2 linked regions of the Homo sapiens genome follow. The protein of the gene in region 1 purifies or fractionates together with the protein of each later gene. This does not show direct contact. Each region holds a gene or a part of one and is shown in the gene's direction. Other genes may lie near its edges.

Region 1 (6,235 bases):
TGGCACAAATACAGCTTATTGCAGCCTCCATCTCCTGGGCTGAAGCTATCTTCCCACCTTGGCCTCCCATGTAGCTGGGACTATAGTTGCATGCCAACATACCCAGCTAATTTTTTTATATGCGTCTGTAGAGACAGGGTTTCACCATGTTGCCCAGGTTTGTCCCTATTTTGAAGATGAGGAACAGAGACCCAGAAGGGCAAAGTAGTTTATTCCAGGGTCTGACAGTAGCAGCCCCTGGGTGAGGAAACTGGGGATGGAGAAAAGGATAGGTCGCAGCCATGAGGTGGGCACTGTTTTCCTCCCAAGCCTCAGAGAAGGGGCAGACTTTGAGCAATGAGCTGTCACAGTTGAGGGCCCCAGTAACCAGGTGGCCACCAGCTCAAATAATCTCTGAACTGGAAGAGAATTAAGGGTCATCTTACTGCAACATTCGAGTCATGAAGGCGTCTCTTCTCTAACACTTCCTTGACGTGGTCACTCCCTTGGTTGCTGCCAGTGTCAGGGGAGAGGGGTTGAGTTCCACCAAAGACAGTCCCTTCTAACTATGGACAGTCAGATGGTTACAGAGTTCACCCTCAGACTGAGCTAGAATCTTGCAGCTCCCATCTCCTGGTTGGTCAAGTTTTAAAGATGAGGAAACAGACCACATAGAGGTCAAGTAACATCCCAGCATCACACAAGCTGAGAAGTAGCAGAGCTTAAGTTTACATGCAGTTGGGCCCGTGCAGGCCCACAGTTAGCCCTGCCTCCAGCAGTTGTCCATTGAGATTGGTTCTATCCCCAAAGGCCCCATCTGGAACCAGTCTGTCTTCACAGAATGGGGCCAGCCCAGGGATGTGACTGGAACTTGGCTCCCACTTTCTCAACTCCTACAACTCAAAGGAAAACCCTTGGCCATTAGCTGTGTGACTAATTCTGGCCTGAGAGTGTAATCTAAACAAATTCCACCCACTACCTTAATAACACAGCTGGTTTACCATGATTTCCCCAAAACACAACTAGGCTGAGTCAATATTCATGTCCTGGCCAGGAAAATAATTGTTCTTCTTTGAAGAGTCGTTATTACCATCCAGCTCTGACCCTGGGCCCTGCCTGCACACCTGGTTTTCCATGGTTCCTCTGTGGGTGGGTGGGTAGATGAGTTAACCATCTGCGGGAAGGGGAAGGAGAAGGGCTGCCGTGAGAGGTCTCTGAGGCTCCCATGCCTTTCCCTGCTCTAACCTGGAGCGTACTCCAGAAGAGATGCCTCACAGGGTTCTAGAATGTACGCAGGCCTGGAGCCCAGGGCTGATTCTGTCACTCTCTATTTTGCTTCATTTTCCCCTTCCTTCAGTATTTATATATGGGGACACCGAAGCCCAAAGAAGCAAGGTGACTTGCCCAAGATTACTCTAGGGCAGGAGCTAGCACTAGATCCTAAGTGTCCAGGTTCGTGGTGTGGGCCCTTTGCCCTGTCTTTGGTATGACCAGATTTACCCTGAGTCCCAAGGGGAATGACCAGGGGACCCCTGCCAGGCTCACCACCAATCCCAGAATTGCTGTAGGCAAGAGGCAGTGCCAGGTTTTAGAACAAACACCCCATTTACACAACAGGCCACAAACACATGCAACTCATTAGCTCCCATTAGGGAGAGACAGTAATTCAGAATGGATTAGGTTTCTTGAAGCTGAACCCATATTGGCCCTGAAATCTTAGTGAGGGGTTCTCTCCGCCCCGCCCCCTCTCCCAGAAGCCTGGGTTCCGAATGGGTTCTGCAGTGAGGCCTCTAGAGTCTCCACAGCAAAGGGCAGAATAATGTGATTGGGGATATAGAGTGCCAAGGCTGAGCTAAAGAAAGGGCAAGGCTTGGAATTGAACCCAGGAAGCTTCCTGGAGGAGGAGGCGGGGCTGGCTTGGTAGAACAAAGGGAGGGGTGGATTTTCTTGCTGGTGAAAAGAGATTGAGTGGGAGGTTCAGGGAAGAGTGCAAACATCCTTCCCCTCTCTCCCCCTAGCCCTGGGGCTCCTTCTCTGCTCCTTCCCGGCCGGGTTTGGGGGCGCTCGGGAGGGTGACGGCAGGGTCCTCGAGGCCCAGCCCGGCGGTGGGGGCGCGGCCGGCAGGAGCTCCCTCCCTGCTCCAGGAGCCGGCTGAGCGCGCCCCGCGGGGGGCTCCGCAGCCCTTACAAGGAATTTGGTGGCGCTTGGGGTGGCCCCGCCCGCCAGGCTCCACCGGCCCCTCCTCCCCGCGGGGTGGCAGCCCGCTGGACGCGGGGCCGAGGGCGCGGACGCCGACGGGTCCGGGGCCGCGCGCTCCAGGGAAGCCTGCATCCCGCTCCCCTGGGCCCCGACGGGCGGGCGCACTGCGCGGGGCCCACCGGCCGCAGACCTGCGTGGCCGTCCAGGGCGTCGCCATGTCCTCGGTGTTTGGAAAACCCCGCGCGGGCAGCGGGCCTCAGAGCGCGCCCCTCGAGGTCAACCTGGCCATCCTGGGGCGCCGCGGGGCTGGCAAGTCTGGTGAGTGGCGCCGGGGAGCCTGAGCCGCCAAGTGCGGAGCTGGGCGTGGGTGGGGGGACAGTGGGCTGTGCTCTTGGGGGCAGGTTCTTCCACTGGCTTGGGGAGCTTCCTTCACCCAGGAGGGTCGCACAAGACACCGTGATTTTCTTTGCCTCAGTTTCCCTGTTGCCGGGCTTTCTCTTCTCTCGGCTTTGTGCTCAGCTCCACCATCTCTGTCTTCTGTTCCCTGCCTGCCTCTTCCCTTTGTGTCTTCCCACTGTCTCTGTCCTCCGTATCAGTGACCCCTGCTGTCTCTCCCCTCTCTCTTGTGTGTCTCGGAGTCCTTTACTGGTCGGTCTCCCCTGCCACCAACCTTCCAACCCCCACCCCTATGACCTACCCTGGGGCCAGCAGTCAGTCCTGGCGACTGGCTTCAAAGGGACCTGTTGGGCACTGATCCCCCTACCCAAGGCGCCTCTTTGAGCTTAGTCGCAGCCTTGCTACTCCCTGATTAGGCTTGGGGGAAGACTTCCCGTCCAACCCCTCCCCCTCCACACCCCCTCCCCGTAGAAGGGAGCTGGTGAAGTCACTAGCTGTTGAGATTTCTCAGGGAAGGTCCACTCCCCCACTCCCACCCCCATTCCCTGGGATTCTGGGACAAGTTGTGCATTCTTATCAAATGTGTTCGTTTCAAGCCAGACCCCTCTCAACTTTCTGGAAACACATTGGGTTATGGTTCCAGGTGCATGGGATTGTCCTTGATGAGCCAAGATCTTGGGCTTCCATTGAGATAATTTGTGTCAACACTGAACTATGCCACTCCTGGCTGGCTGAAGGAGGGAGGGCAGAAGGGGTCCTCCACTGGCTGTTTTTCCAGTTTTAGCCGTTAGTGATGGCCAACCCAAGCTCAGCTGGCTGTGGGTTTCCTCCCCAGAGTGTTCTGTAAGACTCACTGGGGGCCTACTCTCTGATTTTGAAGCCAGCCCCACCCCCAGAGAGGGGACTCTGAATCTGGTTTTCCTACAGAAGGGATTACCCTCTTCCTTTGAAAGATTTGCCCTTTGAAAATCAGATTGTTATCCGTAGCTCTGTAACCGGTACCGTTTAGCCAGTGACTACATAAAAGAAAGAATTTAAATTTTAAAATATGTATTCCCTGGGTATTAGTTTGCAAACTGACACCGTTAGGAATCCTAGGAAAGAATTTTAAGGATTTTATTCACAATGTCACTTTTTTTTTTTTAAGACAGTGTCTCTGTCACTCAGGCTGGAGTACAATGGCGCGATCATGACTCACTATAGCCTCAAACTCCTGAGCTCAAGTGATCTTCCCTCTCAGCCTCCTGAGTAGCTAGGACTACAGGCATACCACCATGCCTGGTTAATTTTTCAATTTTTTTAGAGATAACAGTGTCACTGCATTGCCCAGGCTGGTCTCAATCCCAAAGCACTGGAATTACAGGCATCCCATTACTTTTCTTTCTTTCTTTTTTCTTTTTCTTTCTTTCTTTCTATCTTTCTGTCTTTGTTTCTTTCTCTTTTCTTCCTTCCTTTTTCTCTTTCTCTTTTCCCTCCCTCCCTCCTTCCCTTCATCCCTCTCTTCTTCTTTCTTTTTTTTCTTTCTTCTTTCTCTCTCTTTCTTCTTTCTTTCTCTTTCCTTCTCTTTCTTTTATTCTCTCTCTTCTCTACTCTTCTCTTCTCTTCTCTTCTCTACTCTTCTCTTCTCTTCTCTTTTCTTTTCTTTCTTTCCAAACAAGCAGTAGCGAACATTACTTTTTGAGGGTCCAGTATAGTAGTTGGCTGGTCTTTGCTTTATATGGCTACACTCTGAACCAAAGAGAGCTTAATTCTTGAGTTTTACATTCTGCTGAGATATCCATGATGAGTGTAGAGGCCCCAGAGAAAGCCAAGACTTGCGATGTGGGAGACCAGGACCAGAGTGTGTTTCTTCGGGACACAGACCTCACCTGGACCTTACCTGGAAAGCCCAGGCACTTGGGGATTTATACCCTTCCCAAAGATCAACCACTGCAATCAACTCTGCTCTTCCTGTGTTTTTGGCTTGTAGCTAAAGCCTGGAGTAAATAGCCCCACACTTCAGAATCTCTGTGACTTGTCCGGGGTGGGCGACACCTCCCTTCAGTTGAGGTTTCACCAGGCTGACTCTAGGGTAATGGTTGCATGGGTCCTGACCCCTGAGTTCATACCTTCCAAACACCCCTTAGGCTTGCCACTCATTGCTTTCCTTGCCATTAAAAAAAATTCCCACGGTGCAATTAGAGGCACTTGGCTCCCCGTAGTTCTGGTTTCCTTCTGAGCCTTTCAAACCAATTCCTCAGTTCCCTAGCTTCATTCTCTGGGAGAGCTGAGCTTGGTGTCAGCCGGGGATCACAGAGGTTAGATAAGGCCTCCCTTAAACGAGGGGCCAGCAGCTAGACATGGCCGCGGAGATGGAGCCAACCTCTTTCTGCTTCTTGCAGCCCTGACCGTGAAGTTTCTGACCAAGAGGTTTATCAGTGAATATGACCCCAACTTGGGTAAGAAACTACTCCCCGTACCTTCTGCTGCCTGTGCCCCATCTGGAGTGCTCTCCTGGGACCCACCCCGTGGGTGGGCACTGACCAGGACTGCATGTCTGGGGACAGAAGGGAGAAGCCGCCAGGATGACCCAGCCCATGGGGGAAAATGTTTTAAGTGTCAGAAATACCCCTTCCACAGCCCACCCCAGACAACTGGGGGGTTGGCCTAATTCACAGAACTAAGAGAGGCTGATTTACCCTAAAATATGAGGTGTGAAAAAACTTTAAAAAATAAAAATAAACATAGCAAGACATCCACATCCAAACAGGTATTATTCTTGGGCCGGGTGCGGTGGCTAATGCCTGTAATCTCAGCACTTTGGGAGGCTGAGGTGGGTGGATCACCTGAGGTCAGGAGTTAATGACCAGCCTGGCCAACATGGTGAAACTCCGTCTCTAAAAATACAAAAATTAGCTGGGCATAGTGGTGTGTGCCTGTAATCCCAGCTTCTAGGGAGGCTGAGGCAGGAGAACTGCTTGAACCCGGGAGGCGGAGATTGCAGTGAGCCAAGGTCGTGCCACTGCACTCCAGCCTGGGCGACAGAGGGAAACTCTGTCTAAAAAAAAAAAAAACTCAAAAACAAATAGGTATTATTCTTCAAGATGGTCACTCAGTGTTCTCTTCCAGAAAACCTGGGCAGGACATTCGAGAAATTCTCTAGTGGTGCTGGCTTCTGAACCAGTTTTTTAACCGTATGAGAAAACAACTGTTGTTTTCATCGCTGCATCATGGTATATTGGAAAAAGGAACGTTTCGGTGTCAGTCAGAGCTGGGTTTGAATCCTACCTGGCTCTGCTCCTTATTGGCAACCTTGAGCCAGTCAGCTAACCTCTCTGAGCTACTGTTTCCTCATCTGTAAAATGGGCATTAAAAAATAGTTAGAGAATTGCTGTGAGGATTAAAGAAATAGCACATGTAAAAGATCCAGCCTAGTACTTGACCCACAGTAGGCACTCAATGCATTTTTGCTTTTCCTTCCTCCTCAAATGGATTCCCATACACAATAGCTTAGATTCCCTTCTAAAACAAATCAAAGCAGGATTTTATTAGTATAAATGTTGCTTAAAGCTCACATGTATAACATTTGTCTATTGTAAACTGTTCACTGAGAGCCATAAGGTGTCTGGATGATCTTAGCCTTTAGAAAATGGGTGTTGCAGTCTTGGATTATTTTCCCCAT
Region 2 (3,500 bases), on another chromosome or scaffold:
GTGTTTCTACTTCTGATATATTATCTGGCTCTAAACTAAAGATTTTTCTGGTAATTTTCTGATTTTAAAACTTTTATCTAGTTTAAGAATTTTTTTTAACACTTCTCACTCAGTAAACAGAAAAACCTATAAATCTGATGGGAGAAAGATTTGGAATTCATTTTATTGTATAGCTCCATTTTCCCTAATGTAGATAATAGCCAGACATCAGTATTATAAAGTATTTATAGATATTTTAAAGAGGAAGAAAAAGATGTGTGTTTTTTTTTTCAGATGCAAATTGTATTCATATGGTAGACAATGGGATTGTAGAAAAACTTATGGATTTACTGGACAGACATGTAGAAGATGGAAATGTAACAGTACAGCATGCAGCACTAAGTGCCCTCAGAAACCTGGCCATTCCAGGTAAGACTTAAGAATAGAAGGCAGCTGTGTACAAAATAAAATCCATCATTTGGGGAAGCTATTAACTGTATGTGATTTGTGAACCTGCTCTGATGAAGAAAATTTAAAAAAAAATAGTCTTCACATTGTTCACATTTTTTCATGCTAATAAATGGAGATCATATGTTAAATAAGTTTTGTGAGACTGTACAAGAATAATCTTTGCCTTCATTCAGATATCCTGTTACCTTTTGCGAACTGTTAGATTTTCATCATGTTTTATAGTTAAGCTTTTTTAAGTTTGAGATGGGGTCTCACTCTGTCAGCCAGGCTAGAGTGCAGTGACGCAGTCCTGGCTCACCACAGCCTCTACCTTCTGAGCTCAAGTTATCCTCCCACCTCAGCCTCCTGAGGAACAGGGACTACAGGCATGTGCCACCATGCCCAGCTGATTTTTTTTTTTTGTAGAAACAGGATCTCACTATGTTGCCTAGGCTGGTCTTGAACTCCTGGGCTCAAGCAGTCCACCCACCTTTGCCTCCTAAAGTGCTGGGATTACAGGTGAGAGCTACTGCACCAGGCCTTAGGCATCTTTAGTTGAGGTAGAATAATGACATCAATTAACAGAGTCCACTCAAGAATGACTTTCAGTTGTTGTTTTTCTATAAGCAGATGTACAATTTTTTTAAAATAGCCTTAATGTGCCTTTGGAAGTCATGAAATCACTGTATTATGGAAAATACAACAAAAGATAGTTAAAACTATTCTTTTATCCTACTTTCTAAAAATAAATTTCTGATTAGATGAAATAGTACAATTACATGATGATCCAATCCATTTGAATTCATTTGGTTTACATAGGATAGTAACATTTATTAATGTCTATAACATTTATATTAACACAGTTGGATCAAAAACGGAATTGTGCTTTTTGTTGTAAGAGGGTAACATTTTCAGATTTCCTTTACAAACTATGTAAGTAAGTGTTTTGGATTGGATCTAAAAAGCCATGATACTGTCATAAAAATTATTATATTGTCTGTTATCCGCTTATACACAAATAGGATACGGACACACACATAAACAACTGAATTCCATTCTTAAAATTGACAAAAAAGTGACAAGATTGTTTCTAAATGGAAAAATAAAACATGGATCTTAAAGATACTTAATAAACCTGTATTGAATTGAATGTTTATCAACAGGAATGCTAATACCATTTTAACCATAGTCTCTCTTTTTCTCCAGTTATAAATAAAGCAAAGATGTTATCAGCTGGGGTCACAGAGGCAGTTTTGAAATTTCTTAAATCTGAAATGCCTCCTGTTCAGTTCAAACTTCTGGGAACATTAAGAATGTTAATAGATGCACAAGGTAAAAGAAATGTTTTCCCCAACTTGCATTTTTCATATGATAGTCTTAATGTGCCTCTAGTTGAAAAAGGACTTGTTTTTAGCTTTTAGGATTATGTAATCATAAAAAATAGCAAATAAAAGATTTAAAAGTTGGTTTTGGAACTCCATTTGTTAATTTTTATGCTTGTTATAATTATTTATTTATACATATTATTTATTTATTTATTTATTTATTTATTTGTTTATTTATTTATTTTTGAGACAGAGTCTTGTTCTGTCACCCAGGCTGGAGTGCAGTGGTGCGACCTCAGCTCACCGCAACTTCCGCCTCCTGGGTTCAAGCAATTTTCCTGCCTCAGCCTCCTGAGTAGCTAGGATTACAGGCATGCTCCACAACTCCTGGCTAATTGTTTTGGAATTTCACTAGACATGGGGCTTGTTGCTCAGGCTGCTCTTGAACTCCTGGCCTCAAGCGATCCACCCACTTCAGCCTCCCAAAGTGCTGGGATTACAGGTGTGAGCCACCATGTCCAGCCTATAATTGACTTTAAATAGAAATTATACCATATCTCTCCTTATTAGTACTTATAGTCCTGGTTTTAGGTTGCTTTATTCATCAGTTTCGGCAGGGGGTGTTGTGTTTTGGCATTCTATACCCATTTTTACCTTGGCTTTGAAATCAAATTTCATTATTGTGACAGTCAAAAATTTTTTAAATTTGTCTTCCAGACAGGGAGAGCATTTTTCTGTTTGCAGAAACAGCAGTCAGAACCACTCCTAGGAATGAATTATGTTTATTTACTTATTTCTAAATTTTAAACCCTTTTCTATATTGATTGCATAGAGTCTTTCTAAGAACCCTGCATTATAGTCCGCCAGAGCACTAACAGACTAGCAGGCTTAACCAAAAGAGTATGAAGTCATTTGTTGTTGTATTTTCTATAAAATTTCACAGTGTTACAGAAGAAGGCAAATAGCCCATCACATAAGGAATATTTGCAGTTCTAGCTTTAATGAAATTGTCGTGCTGTGTTTTTTTAGACGTCCTTCACACTCTCAAATCTGTACGAATTATTTCAACTGATTGTCTGTTAGTGATTCATTCCTTGGTTTGCCTTCTTTCCTATAGCAGAAGCTGCTGAACAATTGGGAAAGAATGTTAAGTTAGTGGAGCGTTTGGTGGAATGGTGTGAAGCCAAAGATCATGCTGGTGTGATGGGGGAGTCAAACAGACTGCTGTCTGCCCTTATACGACACAGTAAATCAAAAGTAAGTTCCAGAGGAAACTGTTCACTAGAAAACTTCAGAGTGTCTTTTTCAGAAACCCAGCATTGTAGGTCCTAACAACTGGGATAATATTTACCTGAAAGTATTGTGAAGATTCAGTGAGATCATGTATATAATGTGCTTAGCTGATACATGGGATATAGGAAACACTCGGTAAATGGGGGTTGCTGTTGTTGCTGCTGCTATTGTTGTTATTACTTTTACCACCACCGTTATCAGCATCAGTGTCAAACATTCTTTGTGCCAGGCATTGACCATGCAGCCTACTGATATTTAGAAATTAAATGGTACCTAGATAGTATATGATGTCCAGAGCTCACAGAGTTAGAAAAAAATCCATTCTTGTGGCTGGCTGTGCCGCTGTCTGGCACATGGTAGATAACCAATAAATGAACAAATGAGCTATTTTAAAGATCACAATAGTGAGTACCCAGGCCAGCAGTTCAGCAGCTGATTTAGTATCTAGATTAT

The links.
Region 2: the proteins of RASL12 (region 1) and RAP1GDS1 purify together in Homo sapiens (affinity purification with mass spectrometry; one large-scale study listed by BioGRID and IntAct). This does not show direct contact.

What each region holds. Positions count from the first base shown.
Region 1 is NC_000015.10:65,063,994-65,070,228, reverse strand, and holds the start of RASL12 (ras-like protein family member 12), read left to right. Parts: upstream 1-2,237; 5' UTR 2,238-2,393; coding exon 2,394-2,496; intron 2,497-4,955; coding exon 4,956-5,012; intron 5,013-6,235.
Region 2 is NC_000004.12:98,418,384-98,421,883, forward strand, and holds part of RAP1GDS1 (rap1 GTPase-GDP dissociation stimulator 1), read left to right. Parts: intron 1-273; coding exon 274-408; intron 409-1,635; coding exon 1,636-1,761; intron 1,762-2,871; coding exon 2,872-3,011; intron 3,012-3,500. UniProt on the Homo sapiens protein: Acts as a GEF (guanine nucleotide exchange factor) for the Rho family of small GTP-binding proteins (G proteins) that stimulates the dissociation of GDP to enable subsequent binding of GTP.